Regions from separate parts of the Homo sapiens genome. Here region 1 is linked to region 2. Evidence: fine-mapped QTL for protein levels in blood plasma. A gene starts in region 2. The other region holds a variant in brackets. All regions are shown on one strand. Distances are from middle to middle.

The links. A credible set is the group of variants that fine-mapping cannot tell apart. PIP is the posterior inclusion probability: the model's chance that the variant is causal. The UK Biobank Pharma Proteomics Project read protein levels with antibody pairs (Olink). The fine-mapping took linkage between variants from a reference panel, not from the people measured, so its PIPs are less certain.
Region 1: its variant is the best candidate, but not a certain one, in a credible set for the plasma level of the TFPI2 protein (UK Biobank, PIP 0.54).

Annotation. Positions count from the first base shown.
Region 1 is chr7:93,945,625-93,955,452 of GRCh38, forward strand. No RefSeq gene overlaps it. Among named protein-coding and RNA genes, the nearest start is that of BET1-AS1, 18 kb to the right of the region's middle. The variant T/C (reference allele first, on the strand shown) is at 4,356.
Region 2 is chr7:93,885,012-93,894,839 of GRCh38, forward strand. TFPI2 (tissue factor pathway inhibitor 2) reads right to left here and starts at 5,742. Exons shown (of 5, transcript NM_006528.4): 1 at 5,580-5,742; 2 at 5,126-5,308; 3 at 4,024-4,212; 4 at 2,250-2,420; 5 at 385-1,885. The coding sequence starts at 5,667. The coding sequence ends at 1,809. TFPI2-DT (TFPI2 divergent transcript) reads left to right here and starts at 5,883. Exons shown (of 2, transcript NR_134235.1): 1 at 5,883-6,068; 2 at 8,231-8,577.

The sequences.
Region 1 (9,828 bases), 61 kb after region 2:
AAATATATCAACCCTTTATGCTTGGCTCAAAGTAGATATTGCTAATCAGTCACTGAGTGCTCTCTTACCGAGCTAGAACAGCCCTCATAATCTTTTCCAATAGCACTGCAGGTTTACTAATCAATTGGAGTTGACATGACATGTTAAACCTATTTGCTTTCCCAGGTTTAGACTTTCCAAAATATAGCAAATACAATCATTTGGGCAAAACTTATCATTAATCGCTTTCCAAAAGAAATGCTGAAAAACTATTTTGGCAGCCCCTCCTCTCTGCCTAATACATGGCTATTTTAGGAGACATATAACTGCATGTGATCTGATTCCTCCCTTATCTTTCTTTTCCAGTAGTGTCTGCAAAGTTTATCTCATCCAGTTTGAATAGACTTCTGAGCACATCGCTCTCAGGTCTTCACAGCTAATCTATTTTCAACCACGATATAACTTCCTATATCCAAGACAAGGTGTCCTTCCTTTTTAAAATAACTTATCTTTCCCAGTTCCTTTAATTCCTTTAGTTTCTTCCGTTTTCCTAAATGTTCATCACTTAGTCACTTCTTTACCTTATTATGTCTCTTCTCTCCAATAATTGCCCCTCCTCACTAAAAATATGCTGTCAGTTTTTCCTTGGCTTTAACCAAGCATGCAAAGCCACAGACTTTTCACCAATTCTACTCCCTACTTAAACTAGCACATTATAACATTTTTCCCCCTTTAACCACAATGTCTGTTAAAACACCAGGCTGTTTCATCAATCTCTTCTTAATTCCTTGCAAGGATTTTTAAACTCTTGGAATTTGCCAAATGCTTTCTTTTCCTTTTAGCCTCTCAGTAGCATTCTTGACCTGCTCCGTTTCTCTGGCTTATCTAGCCCTGCACAAAATGAATTTCTTCTTTGCTTGTTCTTTTTGTGTTTCCTTTGTTAACATTTTATATAATTCCTAAGGCCTTATTCTTGACTTTCTTCTCTTCCCCTTCTCTACGTCCTTCTCTTTGGAAAACTCAACTTTGAAATTTTCAGCTATCATCTCTTTACAGCTTTCAAATTAATGTGAGTACTCCAGGCTTCACTCTTAGAGGTGAGTTTCACATTTTCAACTCCCCTTCTGAACATAAACAGTGACTTTCTTTTTCCAATTACTTTTAACCTTAAGGAGACTTTTTAACCTGTGTTTTCATCTGTTGCATATCAGGCATGCCAAATTTAGTTGCTGTCCTTCAGTGTGTTTTCTGGGCCCCATTCTTCCTCCCGGTTCCATTGTCTTCTCGATTAAAGCTTTTATCACCCCAAAACAGAAAGCTTAAAATAGTTACATTGCAGCTTCATATTCCTGTCTCTATAGTCTTTTTTCTGAAAGCCACCTTGCAAAAGATCTTTAGGTTTGCCATCTTAAACCACTGTTTTAAAACCATATGTCTCTTGTCGAAAACCATCATGGGATTGCTATTATCTACTGAATGAGAACTGGGCTCCTTATTCTGACAGCCAAATTCTCCATAAGCCAGGCTTAACCTACCTTTAAAGCTTGTGCTCATGTCAAGCACACTACTTGCTGATTCCAAAATTTGCCTTGATTTTTTTTTTATGAGTGTGCACTTTTGTTTTGCCACTTTAGATTTCTGGAATTAATTCTTCTACTTCTATATTCCATCTTTTAAAATTCTACTCAATCTTTAACAGCCAACTCAAACAACTTCAGCATTAGCCTTGAGGTAGAGGTGTGACCAGGTCCATCCAGGTGGGGCACTGACCAAGAAAGAAAAAGAAGGAGGCAGTCGAGGGACATCTCTGAAGGGGCATAAGATTTATGTCCAACAAAGACATGGATGCTAGCTAATACCATGGGATTGCTTAAGGTGAGTTGTAAAAGTGAGCAGAAGAGAGACTTGACATGGCCTGAAGGCAGGCTAATAGTTATCTTGGGAGTAGGAAGAAGAAACATGCAAAAGACACCAGCAAGTTGTGGTCAAATACAGGAGAAAAGCCAGGAAAATGTGATATGATACAAGTCAAAAGAAGAAAGTTTTTCAAGAGGAATGTAGTATTTGATATTTTCCAATGTTCCTAAGAAATCAAAAGAGATGAAAATCAAAAACAAAAACAAGTGGGTGGTGGGGAATAGAATTTAGTGACATGGGCCACTGGGAACATTGATGAGAGCTCTTTTGGTGGAGTGGTAAAGGGTCAAGCCAGATTAGTGTTGGCTAGTGATCAAGAGATGAAGAAGTGGAGACAGCAAAAATGTATAATATTTCTGGAGAGCTTGTTGTGGCTGAAAGAGAATGAGGAACGAATCTTCTTTCTTGGGAGTGGCTGGAGGTAGCTTAAAAGCCATTAAAAATATTCAGGTTTAATGGGAAAGTTAGAAGATAATGCAAAGAGAAAAAACATTTGAGTAAAGTTCCTAAGATAGGGGGAGAGGATAAGCTCAAAAGTCAGGAGATTTAGTGTGAGCAAGGAGCAGGCCACCTCCTGTCTTGCAAAAAGACAAAGAGTAGACATGGGTGAGGAGAAAAGACATGTGTGTTTGGTGGCTTAGAGCATGTGATTTAGAGATTGAAGAAATGTCCAATTGATGGCATCTATTTTCCCTTTGAGATAGTAAGTGACATCAACCTCTGACACCAAGGAAGAAGTGGGAAGTAGTAGGGATGGGAGTTTCAGGAGAATGTAAACGGTTTGAAACAGTCATTGCAGAGTAATGTCATTGCAAAGTAATTTGAAAAAAAAATTATTGGAATGCCAGAAAAGAATGTAAATGAAGAAAGACTCAATATGTGGGTTTATTAAGGACTGGTTTGTTAAGACCAGTGTGATCAAAATATGGGACATAAGTACATTTAGAATGTGGCCAAGAATGTTTTTTGGGGATTTTTTGTTTTTGTTTTTGTTTCTGTTCAGGGATAGAGTCTTACTCTGTTGCTCAGGTTGGAGTACAGTGACAAGATCATGGCACACTGCAGCATTGACCTACCAAGCTCAAGCAATCCTTCTGCCTCAGCTTCTCAAACATCTGGGACTACAGTTGTCCACCACCATGCCCAGCTAATTTTTTTGAGTTTTTGCAAAGATAGGGGTCTCACTGTGTTGCCTAGGCTGATCTTGAACTCCTGGGCTCAAGCAGTCCTCTTGCCTCCCAAAGTTCTGGGATTACAAGCATGAGCCACCACACCTGTCCTCAAGATTGTTATTGGAATGGTGGAATATATATTGTGAAGAGGAAAATGAAGGAAGAAAAGGCCAGTAGGTTTAACAAAAAAAGAAAGAAAGAGAGAAAAAGGAAGAAGGAAGGAAGGAAGGAAGGAAGGAAGGAAGGAAGGGAGGGAGGGAGGGAGGGAGGGAGGAAGGGAGGGAGGGACGGAGGGAGGGAGATAAGGAGGGAGGGAGGGAGGGAAAAAGGGAGAGAGGGAGAAAGGGAGGGGTGTAATTGGATTGGCAGTCCTGATGAGATTCAAGAAGGGTCTCTGATGCCTTACCTGATTACTCCCATCTGGAAGCTGTTTTTTATCTAGCTTCCCCAATCACGGTTGTTTGAACTGCTTATTATTGAGATGTTATCCACCATATACTGCCCTATTTCAATATGGTATGCTAGCTCACTTATGTGGGCTGGATGTGTAGTACAAGTGTCTACACACTTAAACTTACTCATGATAGGTAATCAATAAATATTTGTTGAATGAATGAATAAGAGAAGGGAAGAAGAACAGAAAGGATGAAAGTAAGAACAATATACTTTAGCTTAGTCTTTTGTTTACAGATTGTTGTCAACACATATCTTACTGATTATATTTCCTTTTCTTGCAACTTTTAAGAATGAGTATATGGTATTTTAGTCATTTAGTGATCAAAAGATTGATCAAAAGATTAGATTAGGTTACTCAAACCAACAAATGTTTTATTTGACCATTAAACATAAATTTGTGCTCTCTTTTTATTCACAACATGAGGCAGAAAATTGTGAAAGTTTCTAGTAATTACAATTCAATCCAGAGAGCCAGTCTGGGAGTGAGTCACCCCCTTGTCTGGACAGTAAGTGTCCATTATTTACGTCAATATGCTCTGTGGCTGTGCCTGCAGCTAACCCTGAATGATAGCAAATGTCTGCTTTTCCAATTCTTTTTCAATTTCCTTCTTTAAGAAGAAAACAATTGAATGTAACAGGATAGAACTACACTGAACATCACTATTAAGATAATGGCTTACTGAGTTTGTTGTTCATGACATGAATGCTGTTCCTGTTACACTAATAATTAGCCATCTGCTAAAATGTGAATTTTTCCATTTTGAGCTATGAATCTGTAAAGAATATGAGCACATTGATTTACTTCCTTTGAATTTTTTTATTACAATTGTA[T/C]TGATATCTTTCAGTCCAGTTTTCCTTCCTTAACTTAAACGTATCCCTTTCCTCTTTAAGGATATTTCATGCAGCGTCAAGATACATACAAAGTAAAAAGCTTAAAATTTTTTTAAAAAACTGTCCATTAGATTGTGAAGTGCTATTTTAGTGACAATACTAAATCGATATTTGTTGTGTTATGGCTGAATTGAGTGAATTTTTCACTTGCCTAGTTAATTTTCTGTATGTGAAAAGAGTAGATCTCTTTTACTGAATACATCAAAGTTTACATGCATGATGCCTAATGGCCTAATTGAGGTAAACAACATTACGCTCCATGAGTAGAACTTCAGTCTCTTTTGTTTCTGGTACTAAGACTAATTCTTTATTTTAGGAATTATTATTATTATTATTTCGGTCATTATCATCATCATCATCACAATAGTCATTATCATATCTGGGACCTCAAGGCCCTTGCCATCACCAGGAGGTGACGATGAGTATCTCTTTTTATAAAGTACTCTTAAAGGCCTCATGATAGATGTGATTTAATATACATCCTTCAAGGGGACAAATCCTCCCCAACTGCATTCCTCTTGTTTATCCATTTTTTGAAGATTTTCAGATTTCTAGAGAATAGTTATTGTGGTGTGGTATGAAAAAGAATGAGGAAAAGATTTGAATTCAGAGTGGTTCAGGTTCAAATTTTGTGTGTATTAGTTGTTTGATTCTGACTAGATTATTTTGGCTTTGTAAATATCAGTTTCCTCATCTGCAGATTAGGGATAATTGCTACCTGACATGATTCATTTATTCAACATCTGTTTCTTGGAAATCTAGGTACTAGGTAGGTCCTGTGAACAAGGTAAATGGTTGATGACTTTGTGAAACCTACAACTTATGGAAGACATCAAGCAAATGATTTTAATTTGAGTGGCAGTATATACAATGTTTAAGAACTGAAAGTCTGGGCCCTATCTACCTGGGTTCAAATCTCAGCTCTGGCCCTTACTGGCTGCAGCAGTTTAAATTGCCTAATCTTATTTTGACTCAGTCTCCTCCTCCTTTTATGGATAAAGGTGGGTTTTCTTTTTTCTTCTGATGAGAGGACTCAAGTTCAGAAAGCTTGAAATAAAGTTAGGGGTAGCTCATAACTCAAGATGGCATTTTAAGGAAAAAATACCTTCATCCTTCAGAAACCTGAACAGAAGTGGAAAAATAACTGCAGTTCTTTAAATAAGCTTTTGAATTTGAAGGTCTGTGTTGGAAACATGACTGGGACACTAAGGTCCAGTTGGAACCACTGAGTCACCACCTAAATGTATGTGTTTTACTGACCTCTGATGCTGCATGGAAAGACCAGGCTTCATTCAGACATATACATGAAGTAGGACAAGATAAAAAGGAATCCTGATGTGAATAACAGATCAGATACATGCAAACACATGATCACACAGTTGGGAACGTGTATTGCTGCTGCAAACATTTTCAGTCTATGAAAATAGAAAAACATTATCCATTCTTTAGAGAGAAGGAAAATAATGAAAATGTTTAAAACTTTTTATGATTCAAAATCTCTCTTTTCCTGTCTTAAAATATTCAGAATGCCATTAAATTAAGAAAAATATTTATTGAATATTTAATTTTGCCAGGATAAAATTTAATTACTTTATATCATGTCATAAAGTTTTACAGCATGTAGTTACTTGTAGCATTTATGACAAGATGAATGAAAAATTTGAGTAATTACTTTTTTTGCAATCTTTTTCGTAGTACTTGTTTTGTGCCGGGAACTGTTCTAAGAGTTCTAAGTATAACATTCCACAATTACGTAGGAAGTTAATTGTTGGTTTTTTAATAGATTTCTTTGATCAGATTTAGAATTTTCTCTTCCAGTCCTACTTTGATGGGAGATTTTCAACATTAACAGGTATTGAATTTTGTCAAATGCCTTGTCTGCACCTATTAAATGGATCATATAATATTTCTATTTATTTCATTAATACTACTAATTGCAGGGTTGATTGATTTTGTGTTGTCAATCTAACTTGGTGTTTCTGGAATAAACTTCACTTAGTCATGATGTATTATCTTTTTCTCTGTTATTAGATTAAATTATCTAGTATTTTGTTTAAAATTTTCATATATAATTTTACGTAGAATATTGGTCTATGGCTTCCTTTCCTTACAATATTTTCATCAGGTTAGTAGTAGGGTTATGCAGGCCTCCTGAAATTAGTTCAAAACCATTTCCTTTTCCTTAATTTTTGCAAAATGTTTTTGTATCATTTCTATTATTTCATTCTGCAAACTTAATAATATTCATGAGGGGAGGTGTTTGGGCCTAGTGTTATCTTTGTTTATGATGATGAATTCAATTTATTTAATATAGTGGTTTTAGTAGTTCTTAAGTTTTAGTATGCATCACCACCATTGGGAGGGTTGTCAAAACACAAATTGTTGAGCCTTCCTCAAAGCTTCTGTAGGTCTAGAGTGGGGCCAAAAAATTTGCATTTCAAATAAGTTCCCAAAAGATGCTGTTGCTGTTGGTCTTCCAACCATGCTTTGAGAACCACTGCTTGCATAGATAGAGGACCATTGAGCTGATGATGCTCTTGGTAAATAATAACAATAAATATTTATTATTTTTAATTTTAATATGTGTTCCATGCTGATACGATTTGTGTCCCCATCCAAATCTCATCTTGTAGCTCCCATAATTGCCATGTGTTGTGGGAGGGACCCAGTGGGAGATAATTGAATCACGGGGCCAGGTCTTTGCTGTTCTCTTGATAGCGAATGAGTCTTGCGAGATCTGATAGTTTTAAAAAGGTGAGTTTCCTTGCACAAACTCTCTCCTCTCTTGCCACCACCAAGTAAGAAGTGCTTTTCACCTTTCGCCATGATTGTGAGGCCTCCCCAGCCACGTCGAACTGTGAGTCCAATAACCTCTTTCTTCTGTAAATTGCCCAGTCTCGGTTGGGTATGTCTTTATCAGCAGTGTGAAAACGGACTAATACACATACCTAGTTTTCTTTTGATTGTTTTTTCTTAATGGTATATTTTCTCACTTTTTCATGTATTTTGTATTTTTTTTATTGACAGCTTGTCATTGTGTAAGAAAGATATGCTTAGTGTAAGGTCTGGAGTGCTACAGAATTTTTGTCACTTCTCTTCCTCTACCCTCAGACTTCAACAGGCCTTATTTTCCTGCACCTTACATTGAGTCCTTTTAAGAATGACATCTTTCCCTCTAGGGTAGACAGATCATCACTGCCTCGTACTTGGTGTAAGGGCCATATTTCAAGAAGTTCTTCTCAATTCTGCTTTTTCCTCATTCTTAGGCAAACCTTCCTGCATCCCAGTAAAATTCATCTCAATATTACTGATTGCTTGACACCTTATAATTTCCTTGAGACTTACATTTTTGGCTCTTAATTCAAATGAGTTTTGCCACTGCTCTCTGCTTATTGATAAGATAATTATGTATTCTGCATCTTTGTGTGCTCTCTGGTGATAGATTATAATATAATTGTCCCTGCCAGAGCTGCTTTAGTTAAGTGCCTGGTAGCACAAGTCATTTTCCTCCCCAAGGGTTTGTAAACTTAATCTTCTAAAATCTTTTTGTTGTCCAGTTACTAATAGAATATGCATTTTGGAGAAGGGCAAAAACAGATATACCTAATATTTAGACCTAGTCTCAATGGAGTTCGTCTTTTATGAGAACTTTTATAAAGAAATGGAAGAAATCCCCTCCCCTTGTTAAATTTAAAACAATGAAGGTTTAGTGGGCCATACCTGCTGTTAGTTTGAAAAACATGGTAAAGAGCAGAATTGACTCTATGCCTGAATGTTCTCTCCCTTTTACACACATACAAATGTACACACACATTTTACACACATACAAATGTATAACCAGGAGCCTGTTATTGGTTATTTTCACACTAATTCAACAGAGTTACATCAAGGATTAAGAGAACTGGAAAGATGTCAAAGGATGGGCTATGCAATGTCTAGTGTCCAGTCTAGCTTTTTATTTTAAGTAAAAGAGTTGAGAGACTTGAAAAGCAATTCTGCCAAATGAATTTTTAGAAATTTTATTGATGTTTTGCCCGCATGTAATTCAACAGCAGTGTATAAACAATTCATCATTACAAAGTTATTTATAAATTTATTCAACATTGTTTTTATGAAACAACAATACCCTTTCTTTAACCCTCATCAAAACAAATGATGTTAGGGACTGTCAGCTTTGCACAGTGAGTGTATGACACAACTTCTGCTGAAAACGAAACTGAGTGCACTCAAGGAACACAGAGGAGTAGATGGGGTTCCTGGCATGATGTAAGATAATAATGAAAAATGACTTATGTATTTTTAAGAGTTTCTACTTATTTTATATAACACATTGTAGCAAGAAGTGTTACAGGTATTTACAGAAACGCATGATCTCTTCTGCAAGTTTCCCTATAGCAGTTGTTATTGTTGTTGTTGTTACCTTGCAAGAATTCTCCAGCAAACATGTAATATTTTCAACAGGTGCTTCATGCTCCTAGTACTTGCTATCCTTGAGCTTAAGGGCCTAAGAGACAGAACCAAATATTTAAAAATTCTAGCTTCCATTGGATGAAATAGAAAACTTCAAATTTCACAGGCAGAGCCACAAGGCAAAGATTCTTGGGGATGGGGTGGTCGTAGGGACACTAGAGTGAATCCCTGAGGAATGCAGCTCCTGCTAGATTGATTTAATTTCATTTTATGATGCTGTGCCCTGCTTTGTATACAAGATACATATAATGAAAGTTGTAATCTATCAACATGGTATCAAATATTTCAAAGCATTTGATTTTATCCATTATATGAGTTTTATCTAAATAGAAGTTGGAATCTCTTCTTTTGTCTGATTCTCAAATACTGGTTTGCAGACTTTTCTCCTTGACCTTTTCTTACTTTGAATGCTTTAAATAGAGAAATAGACCTACTTGCGTGGCCCCAACTACAACAAAAACTTTTATGTTTTTGTCACTCTTATGAGTCCATGCCAATGGTACACAGCTATATCTCATACAGCATGCTATAAAATGTAATGATTTTTATCTCTAGCTCCCCTAACATGCTTCTTGTCAAAGGTCATCTGTTGAAGCTAGACACCTAGGAAACACCATTGACCCCTACTCCTTCCTTACTCTTCACATCCAAATGCTTCTCCCAGACCTCTTGGCTTTATGGCATTTTTTTCCTCAAAGTTTTGTTACCAAATGAGATGTAAGTGTTTCTAAGGCAATATTTAGAATACCTAAAATGATTAATTATAAAGGGAGGGATTACTGTTAATATGAGTATAGGTTAATTCTAAAACATAAGAGTTTCATGCATGAGAAGTCTGAAATGAGATTTGAAATATGAGTGAACTTTGGGAGACTGGTATAGGGAGGCAAGGGGAACATTTTCACCTAAGATGAGAGAGCTAGGATACAGTCTCAGGAGGACG
Region 2 (9,828 bases):
TGAAAATCCTGACTTCTAAAGAAATGTAACTACTTGTTTTCTTACAACATAGTATTCTAGATACAATAGGTTCAAAATAACACCAGTATTACCATTAACAATGAGACTACTAAATGCATTTTCACAGTGCACTAAAATCTCAGAATTCACTGCAATATAATTCATCCATGTAATAAAAAACCACTTGTAACTCCAAAACTATTCAAATAAAAAGTAATAACAAATTTAAAAATGCATTTTGAGATTTCTTCAGAATTTTTTCACCTTTATATTCCCCAAAAGACATTCTCATATTAATTTGTGAAGTCATTGAAAATAAGTATATATCTTTTGTGTAGTTTTGCCACTATTTGGTATTCAGTTGGGTTTGAATGCTTAAAGAAATGCTTTTTCTTTTTTATTTAATTTTGATTATTAATTATGTCAAATATTTACATGGTCCAAGATAAAAACTATATCACAGTTATATTTACACAAATATTATCTCCACAACTGTCCACCCCTCTGTTCTCTCCAAACCTCTATAGGTAAACATTTTTAATATCTTTAGTATCTTCTGTGATGTTTGTGTATATGTGTGTTTATTCATACTGTTCTAGGCCCTGTGTTTCTTATGTATCCTGGGAGTCAGAAGATATGCATATATAGATATTTTGCTAACTCCTCATCCATAAAATCTTCAACCAGTCCCTGACTGAAGAGTACCTGGTTTGCTTCTAGCTTTCAGCATCATTCAAAGTTCTCAGGCATATACCTATTTGTCAAAATAACTGGGATAAATTTTTAAATGAAAGATTGTTCAAGCAAAAGGTAAACGCATTTGTCATTTTGCATATTTAATTTGTAATTAAATATGTTAATCTTGCTATGAAAACATAAGAATTTAGAAAAATTGTTTTATTACAGAGAAAGAAAAAACCTATTTCATTGGTATGACCATATTTAATCAATGATAATTTACTGGTGAAATTTAAATTATTAAATTTATGCATGGTTTCTCATGCATGGTTTATATAAATAAACACCTTAAACAGTATAAACATTTGAAAAACTTTACTTTCCTTGGTTTTTTATAAGTTTAGTGGTCTCCAACCCACAATGTCTTAGGAAATAATTTAACAATAGGAAAACCCTTAAAACCATCTATCTCTATGTAAACACAAACATATACATGTGAGTGGGGATTGGTAGATAAATAGATAGAAATTGCTTTCCCAGAGGAGAACATTTCTGGCTTTAATAAATTGATTAGCTTTTTAAATCAGTCAAGAAAGTTAAGATCTTTTAAATAAATCCCCTTATTCATTCATTGTACTGCAATCTAACACAATAAAATGGGAGTAATATTTTTAAAGTGTTGTTAATCTGCGACTTTGTCTTCTTGGGACTAAAATATAATCCAACTTTTAAATGCAAAATGAGTTTTATTTGCTAGTCCTTTTTATTCTCAAATATGTTAAAAGCACATGATTATATTGTCTTATGTTGTTTCAGTTATGATCCTCTTCTGAAATCAGGAATACGACCCCAAGAAATGAGTGAGTCATATTTGCTTTTATATCTTATGCATTGCAAGAATTCAGTCTCACAAACAGTTGAACCATAAATTAAAAATGGTAGACTCACATTTGAATAGCAGCTAGTTATATATAAAAAAATCCAAATTTTTTAAAAAGTGACTTGTATTAATAAAAACTGGTGAATAAATCACCAATGATTTGTTTCCTCATGCTGTCATATTATTCTTCAGATACAACCATAAAGGCAAATAAGCCATAAAGACAAACAAGATGACATATTAAGAATGTTTAAAATTGCTTCTTCCGAATTTTCCGGATTCTACTGGCAAAGCGAAGCTTTGGCATCTTCTTTTTCTTTTTCAAAGCTAAAATCAATAAAACGACAATGAAAATCATACATCTCCAGTCTGTAGGCTCACTATAAATCACTATTTCTGATAAGGTTATTGAGCTCACTTCATCTTATTTTTAAGGACTGTGAAGTCAAAACTCATTATACACTCAGTTAATAATATTTTACCTTTAAGATATGAAGATACAGCTACCGTCTACTGCAGCTAGCCAGTAAAAGCATTTTGACAAAACTGATTAACACTACGGAGATACTTATGTAGAAGTAGTCTAGAAACAGCAATTTGCTATTAGTAAAATGGATAAATAAAAATATAATTTTTCTGATAAGTTATTTATAAAGTTTATCTAAAGGTGGAATAAGAAAACATTCACTACCTTTTGCACATGCACGTTTGCAATCCTCCCTGCTAACAAAGTTATTGTCATTCCCTCCACAGCCAGTATAGGTGAAAGCATCACAGGTTCTGTATCTTGGATTAAAATAATAGCGAGTCACATTGGCAGAGCACAGTCCCTCATCTTTTGGACTGTAGCAAAATGATGGAACTTTATAAAAAAGAGAAGAAAATTAGAAATGTTATAATACCAGAATTTTTAAATTATGGTGATTACTGAAGTAACTGAAGAAAATCTAATCCCATAGAAGCCTCAGTCTGAATCCAAAATATCATACTAAACCTTTAAAAAGATGTGCTTCAAATTGCAGGTAAGCTTACATGCTATATTTTGGTAATTCTAAATTTTTGTAAACTGGATAGAATTTCTTCTGAAGCTACATCTTTGTATCCTTTAAATGTAAAAAGAAGTTAAACCCAAATACCAGATATGGTTAGGTAAAAATGGGGTAAGTTTCAAGGACAATATGTGGCATGATTTGGTAAATTTTGTCGTGTTGGTAGTTTTGCTTTAATGTTTTTAACAGCTCTCATTCCATTATTAATCAATAATATATGCATACTAATTTCCAGGTAACCACTGGAGCAAACATTTATATGTACACAAACAAGAGAACATCCACAGTAACCATCACCACATTAACTCAAGATTTTGCATATTCAACACAGTACAGCTATAAAGCTTTATCAAATTCTCTGCCAAAGCAAGTTTTCCTTGTTTGTTGAACTTTTCAAAAATCTCTGTGTCTGGGGGAAATGCCTGTATTGTCTCCCTCTGCAAACATTAAATACTACTCAAGAGACTATCATTTCAAGGATTCAGGGGTGGTGGTGGGAGAGGTAACAAATGGATAGGACAGAAACGTGTGGAGATGTTTGTGCTGCAATTTGCAATTACTGAAGAATACAGAAATCTAACCGAAAACTTTAGAAAGAAATTTTCAAGTTTCACCATCTTAATTCTGTATATATTCCACTATCTCACATGTATAACTTATTGTGTACAAATCTGAGGTCATAACATTCATTAATGAATACTTTAATCTTTTATGCATAAATTGAGTAGCTGAGAAATAGTTCTAAAGAAACAATTCAGGGCTGGGCGTGGTGGCTTACACCTGTAATCCCAGCATTTTGGGAGGCCGAGGTGGGCAGATCATGAGGTCAGGAGATCAAGACCATCCTGGCTTACACGGTGACACCCCGTCGAAAGAAAAAAGAAAGAAAGAAAGAAAAGAAAGAAAGAAGGAAGGAAGGAAGGAAAGAAGGAAGGAAGGAAGGAAGGAAGGAAGGAAGGAAGGAAGGAAAGAGAAAGAAAGAAAGAAAGAGAAAAAGAAAGGAGAGAAAGGAAGGAAGGAGAGAAAGAAAGAGAAAGAGAAAGAAGAAAAAAAAAAAAATTAGCTGGGCATGGTGGCGGGCGCCTGTAGTCCCAGCTACTCAGGAGGCTGAGGCAGGAGAATCGCTTGAACCCGGGAGGCAGAGGTTGCAGAGAGCCGAGATTGTGCCACTGCACTCCAGCCTGGGCAACAGGGCGAGAGTCCGTCTCAAAAACAACAAATCAGAAGAGGCAGAAAGCAAAAATTTGAATCATGGCTTTGTCACTTTCCAGTCCTAAGAACTTGACAAGTCACTAACTTGTCAAGTAATGTGAAATCATGAAAATGCACATGTTAATTTCGCATCAAATTGAGTTTTTTCCACCCAAATGTCTTTTCAAAAAAGTGAAATAGAAATACCATAAAAATCGTATTTACTTTTCTTTGGTGCGCAGAAGCCCATACAAGTAGCTTCATCTGGAAACCTGTTCTCAATCCGGTTCCGGTGACACCCACCGGAAAAGAATTTTTCACATGTCATGGAACTTAGATTAAAGAAATACTTTTCTGTGGACCCCTCACACTGGTCGTCCACACTCACTTGCAGCCGGCAAACTTTGGGAACTTCTAGGAAAAGGAGGGTAATAGAACAATGTTAGTCAAAAGTAGCCTTCTTATTAAACCATCACTGTATTTTCAGCAACATTTTGTGGGGGGAGAGAAGTTGTATTAGTGTTGGGATAGTAAATACCCAGAATACTCCCATGAATCCAGATATTTACTTTTTTTTTTTCTAACAGTGTATTCAGAGCTGACTCAGCTGTGATGTATCTTTCAAGTTCAGTAGAAAGACTCTCTGTTTTCTCTGGGTGTTCTCTGATTGTACATATGCAGTGAATCAAAGCTTATTCACATGAATACGCATTTTCCCCTGGCTCAGTTCCTTGAATGGAAAAGCCCCATGTTCTCTTACAGGCCTTAACCGATATAATTTAAAAATTAAAAATAAATTAAAATATAACAGTATTATGAATCTCCACCATGTCCCGCAACTAATCCAACACATGTTTGGGTATCGGGACAAAAGTAGAGTTATATAATGAGCTAAGTCACACTTCAATAATAAAATCCACTAAAAATATTTCAGATTGATGGATAATCGACAGAAGGAAATGATGTACTCCAGGAGAGATAAAAATCATAGGTTTGGAATTAATGAAAAATACAGAGAAGCACTTACGTTGTACCTAACACGTTATTCTCTTGCATTTATTATACCCCATGGTGAGGGAACAAATCTTTCCCTGAGTCCGCACAGGCACTGAATTATGATCAATGTCAGTTGGGAGACAGGAAATGTGTTAGTGGTTGTAAATTTGTGATTACTTTTAAGAAACTGAAAACCATGAGGTTTGCTTAACACTTGAGAAAACCCAGGCTAAAACTTCCTGTAGAAAGCGAGACGTGGGAAACTGGCGAAGCTGCTACCAGCCGCCGGCGCAAGGAGCGCGAGAGTCCTGGGTGCGCGCAGGGCACTTACTTTCTATCCTCCAGCAAGCATCGTCGCAAGCCTCCCAGGTGTAGAAATTGTTGGCGTTGCCCTCGCAGCCCCCGTACAGGAACTGGCGGCAGCTCTGCGTGTACCTGTCGTAGTAGTAACGGAGAAGTAGGGCCCGGCAGGGTCCGTAGTCTAGGGGCAGGAGACAGATCTCCGCGTTATTTCCTGAAGAAGGGGCAGAAGGAGAGCAAAAGAGAGGGAAAGTGGTCAGGCGTAGCTCCTAGGAGGAAAGAACATCCCGGGGAGTTCTGTCCCCTTCCGAGCGGAGGGGCCTCTGCAGAGAAAGTGCAAACTTGGGAGCGAGTCCCCCCTGCCAGCGGAGCGCGCGGCAGGGACCTGGAGAAAGCGAGGCTTGGAGGGCGCCTACACGGGGCCCCATGGCCCGCTGCGCCCTCTCCGCCGGTTGGGGAGAGAAGCTCCTGGAGCGGCCAGATACCTGTTGGCTCCTGAGCAGCATCGCCCAGTGCAGCCTCCGTCAGGAAAAGCAGCAGAATCGACAGCCCCAGGGGGCGAGCGGGGTCCATGGTGCAGGGGGTCGGGCGGCCCGCTGGGCAAGGCGTCCGAGAAAGCGCCTGGCGGGAGGAGGTGCGCGGCTTTCTGCTCCAGGCGGCCCGGGTGCCCGCTTTATGCGGGGCGAGCGTCCGGCCGACCCCCGCCGGGGCGGAGCCTGAGGGGTGGCTGATTCATGCACGGGGACTGTCACCCCGCCGCCCCCGCGCTGCAAACTGTGTAAGAGGGAGAGGAATTCCCCGCCAAGTTGAAAAGTTGAACCTGCCTCCCAAACTTTCTCCTGTAGTCCAGACGGGGACGCCCTGAGGGAGCGTTTGTGTCAGTAATGGGAAATCTGCAAGCTAGACGGAAATGACCTGCTAGTGATTGCGCTGTAAAGAAGCCGGAATCCACCTCTTGAAGGCATGAAGTTCAGGTATTTGAAAGGCTGGTGGAGAGAAAGTGCGGAGTTCTTGGGTCAGAGCGGAGCGGGATTCGTTGCAATGGACCTTCAGATTAGATTAGAAATGTAAATAAGTGTATATTTATATTTATACACACAGATTTCAATCGAGTTCTAATTTACATTTAATACAGGCTTATAATATATCGTAGGTGGACAGTTTGATAAATTTTGACAACTGTGTAGCCACCAATAAAGAATTAGAACATTTTGGCTGGGCGCGGTAGCTCGCGCCTGTAATCCCAGCACTTTGGGAGGCCAAGGCGGGTGGATCACCTGAAATCAGGAGTTCGAGACTAGCCTGGCCAACATGGCGAAACCCCGTCTCTATTAAAAACACAAAAAATTAGCCGGGCGTGGTGGCGGGCACCTGTAGTCCCAGCCCCTCGGGAGGCTGAGGCAGGAGAATGGCTTGAACCCAGGAGGCGGAGGCTGCAGTGAGCCCAGATGGCGCCACTGCACTCCAGTCTGGGCGGCAGAGTGGAACTCCGTCTCGAAACGAAGAAAAAGAAGAAGAAGAAGAAAAAAAAAAGAGTTAGAACATTTCCATCACTCCAGAAAGCTCCTGCAGACTTTTTCCTAAATCAATCCTTCCATCCTTAGGCCAGGGGCAAACACTCTTCTCATTTCGATTACCATAGATTAGATTTGCCTATTCTTGAATTTCATATAAACGGAATTATAAAGTATTCACTGTGTAGTATTTCTTTCTCACACTTCCTGTTTTTGAGATACGCCCAGGTCACTGCATCAATAGTCTGTTTCTTTTAATTCCTGCGTAGTCCAAGGTATGAATTTACCAAAACGTATGAATATCCCACAATGTATAAATATGTTGCTGTGTGTATCAATAGTCTGTTCCTTTAAATCATTGAGTAATATTCTAATATATCACAAATGTCTTATTACTGGAATTTGTGTTGTTTCTAGTTTGTTTGGGGGCTCTTATGAAAAAAGCTGCTTTGTGTGGACCTGCAATTTTTATTACTCTTGGATAAAATACTTAGAAATGTTAGACACTGCCAAAGGATTTTTTCAAGATGATTGTACCATTTTACACCCCAACCAAGCATGTATGAAGCTATGTTTTTGTATGTATCTATGTTTTTGGAGAAGAACCATAGCAGCCCAGAGAGATAGCCTTGGGGAGTTCTGAAGATTTGACCAGATCAGTGTATTCCCACACATTTCCTAATGTCAGTGCATCCATTAAAGTTCCCTGTTCCTTTGACATATTAGCTTGTGATCCACTTTTTTTTTTAATACAAACAATTACCTACAGTGAAATTTTACATAAAATATTAAAGATATTTTTGAAGACATTTTAATATACTTGTCTTCCCTTCCCCTTTTCTCTTGTTGTATTCAACATTCTCAAGTAAATAATTATTCTTGACTTCTGAGGATACTGGGGGTAGTTTACAGAAGTTCTCTTTCAAGTTTTCAGGAAGCCCTGAAAAGTATAGGACACACTTGCTCAAAGTGGGTTAATAATCTGAGGTATTTTGCACATTATATCCTTGTGCCAGTTTTCAGTCATTCTGATGTCATGTTACAAGGTCACAGTCCTAGGAAAACCAGCCTGATCTGGAAATGCTGTCAGCTTTGATTAGCAGATGTCTATGATTAAGAATGATAGTTGAAACTATAAGGATAAATGTTTAATTATCACCTCTCCAGTAGGGAAAAATAAATGGGATGGGGATGCTTTGTATAGTTAACTGATTTCTGTGATGTAAATGTGCTCACTAAGGTCAATTTCAAGCTGCCACTGCAGAATCACTGAATGCCGAGGTGGGAAAAGATCTCCAAGAGCCAGAGCTCCCCATGGCCAAAATCTGTGTGAGCTGGCTCTAATGCACCAACCACTGAGACAGACAGCCAGTTTTGGAATGACACATTCAGAGTAAAGTCAGATTAGACCCTCCCAGTTCCTTCAAAATATTATTAGGGGAGGGAATTTTACCACTCATTTACCGAGAATCATATTCAGGAGAAAAGTTGACTCAACTTCAAACTTACCTATATCTATCTTCTGAATAAAATTAAATATATCTTTAGACTAAAATAAAATTCAAGGACTGATACTCAGTTTTCATGGAGCACTGACTACTGCCATTTCTCTTTGTTCTCAGGTGCTGGACACTTTTTGATTGTCTTTCGCTCATACAAAAAAAAAAATGAACCACTGGACACAATGGCTTCTGCTAGTAATCCCAACACTTTGGGAGGCTGAGACAGGAGGATCGCTTGAGGCCAGGAGTCAGAGACAAACCTGGGCAACATAGTGTGATTCCATCTTTACAAAAAAAAAAATTTTAACTTAGCTGGGCATGGTTGTGTACACCTGTAGTCCCAGCTATATGGGAGGTTGAGATGGAAGGATTGGTTAAGCCCAGGAGTTTGAATTTGCAGTGAACTATGGTCGTGCCACAGCACTCCAGCCTGGATGACAGAGTGAGACTCTGAATCTGACTAAAAAGAAAAAAAAAAAAAGATTAGCCCTTTTGTATCAAGACAGACATTTTGGGAAATTGCATCGTGCCATGGAAAAATAGAGTTGGAATTCAGAGGATACCTGGATTTTATTCCTTGCTACATTGGACAAGTTACTTAAAACTCTCTGAGCCTCAGTTTCCTTTTCTAATAGACATAATAACTCTACCTCGCAGATGTGTTATGAGGATTAAATGGAAAATGCCTATGCATTCAAAGATATTGTTTTAGCCCCTCACACAATGGCACAAACTTCATCCAGATCATCCCATATCCTACTTCCCATTGAGAGCCTTGGCACACAATTTTGAGATGGAGCATCAAACTCCCATCAGGAAACAGAGCAACATGAAATGGCCTTATAGAATTAAAGCCCATGTCCTTGCTCCTGTCAGCTCTTCTCTTAACTAAGCTCAGAGACCACCTCTCTGCCCATGAAGTTGTCACACTTTCTGGTAGTCTCTTCTAGGGAAATGAGCTTCAAGGGGATTTCAGAGCAGAATCCTCAGCCCACTCAGGGCTGCTGTATAAGGCATGTAGTGGAAATGGGAGGGGGGCAAAAACAGGCCTCTCACCCTTCTGTGGTGTGGTCTGTAGATGCAGGTTGGAATCAGTCCCGAGAGATGCTCTAGAAATGCTGGTTTCCTTCTACTTTTCTATGCCAAACAGGGTGCATCCTTAAAACCTCTATGACCACAGATGGAGAAAGGAGAATTAAAGAAGTGGAATTGGCAGAAGTTTGAGATTACTAACCCAGGTTATTACAAAAAAAGTATTCCTCTTAATTGCATAAATAATTGAGTATTTTTATATCCATGAAAAAGACATCTTCCAATATAAGGGTAATCTGAATTTCCTGGAGACTACTTTGACGTTACTGAATTTACATTTAGAATATTTTGGAAGGAGCAACATGACCACCACAATCAGCCTCCAAAGGGATGTCATAGCACTTCTATCTCCTTAATCCAGTGTCTAGCCCAAAATGCTGCCTCAAGGCTGAGGAAAGTAATTCCTTTGTCCAAAGTCAACAGGAAGTGCAAGGCTAGAGATAACTGGGAAAAACAGTCATCCAGATTGATTTGTCATTGCTACACCAATTGACAGTTAAATTGTCTGTGGCTAAAGACAAAGGCTCAAAATAGTCTGGAGTTCTGTAAAAATAAGGCATGGAGTTGTAATTTGAATGCTGAATGGAACTATAAGTATGTTCACTTTACACAAGTGTGAACTGAGA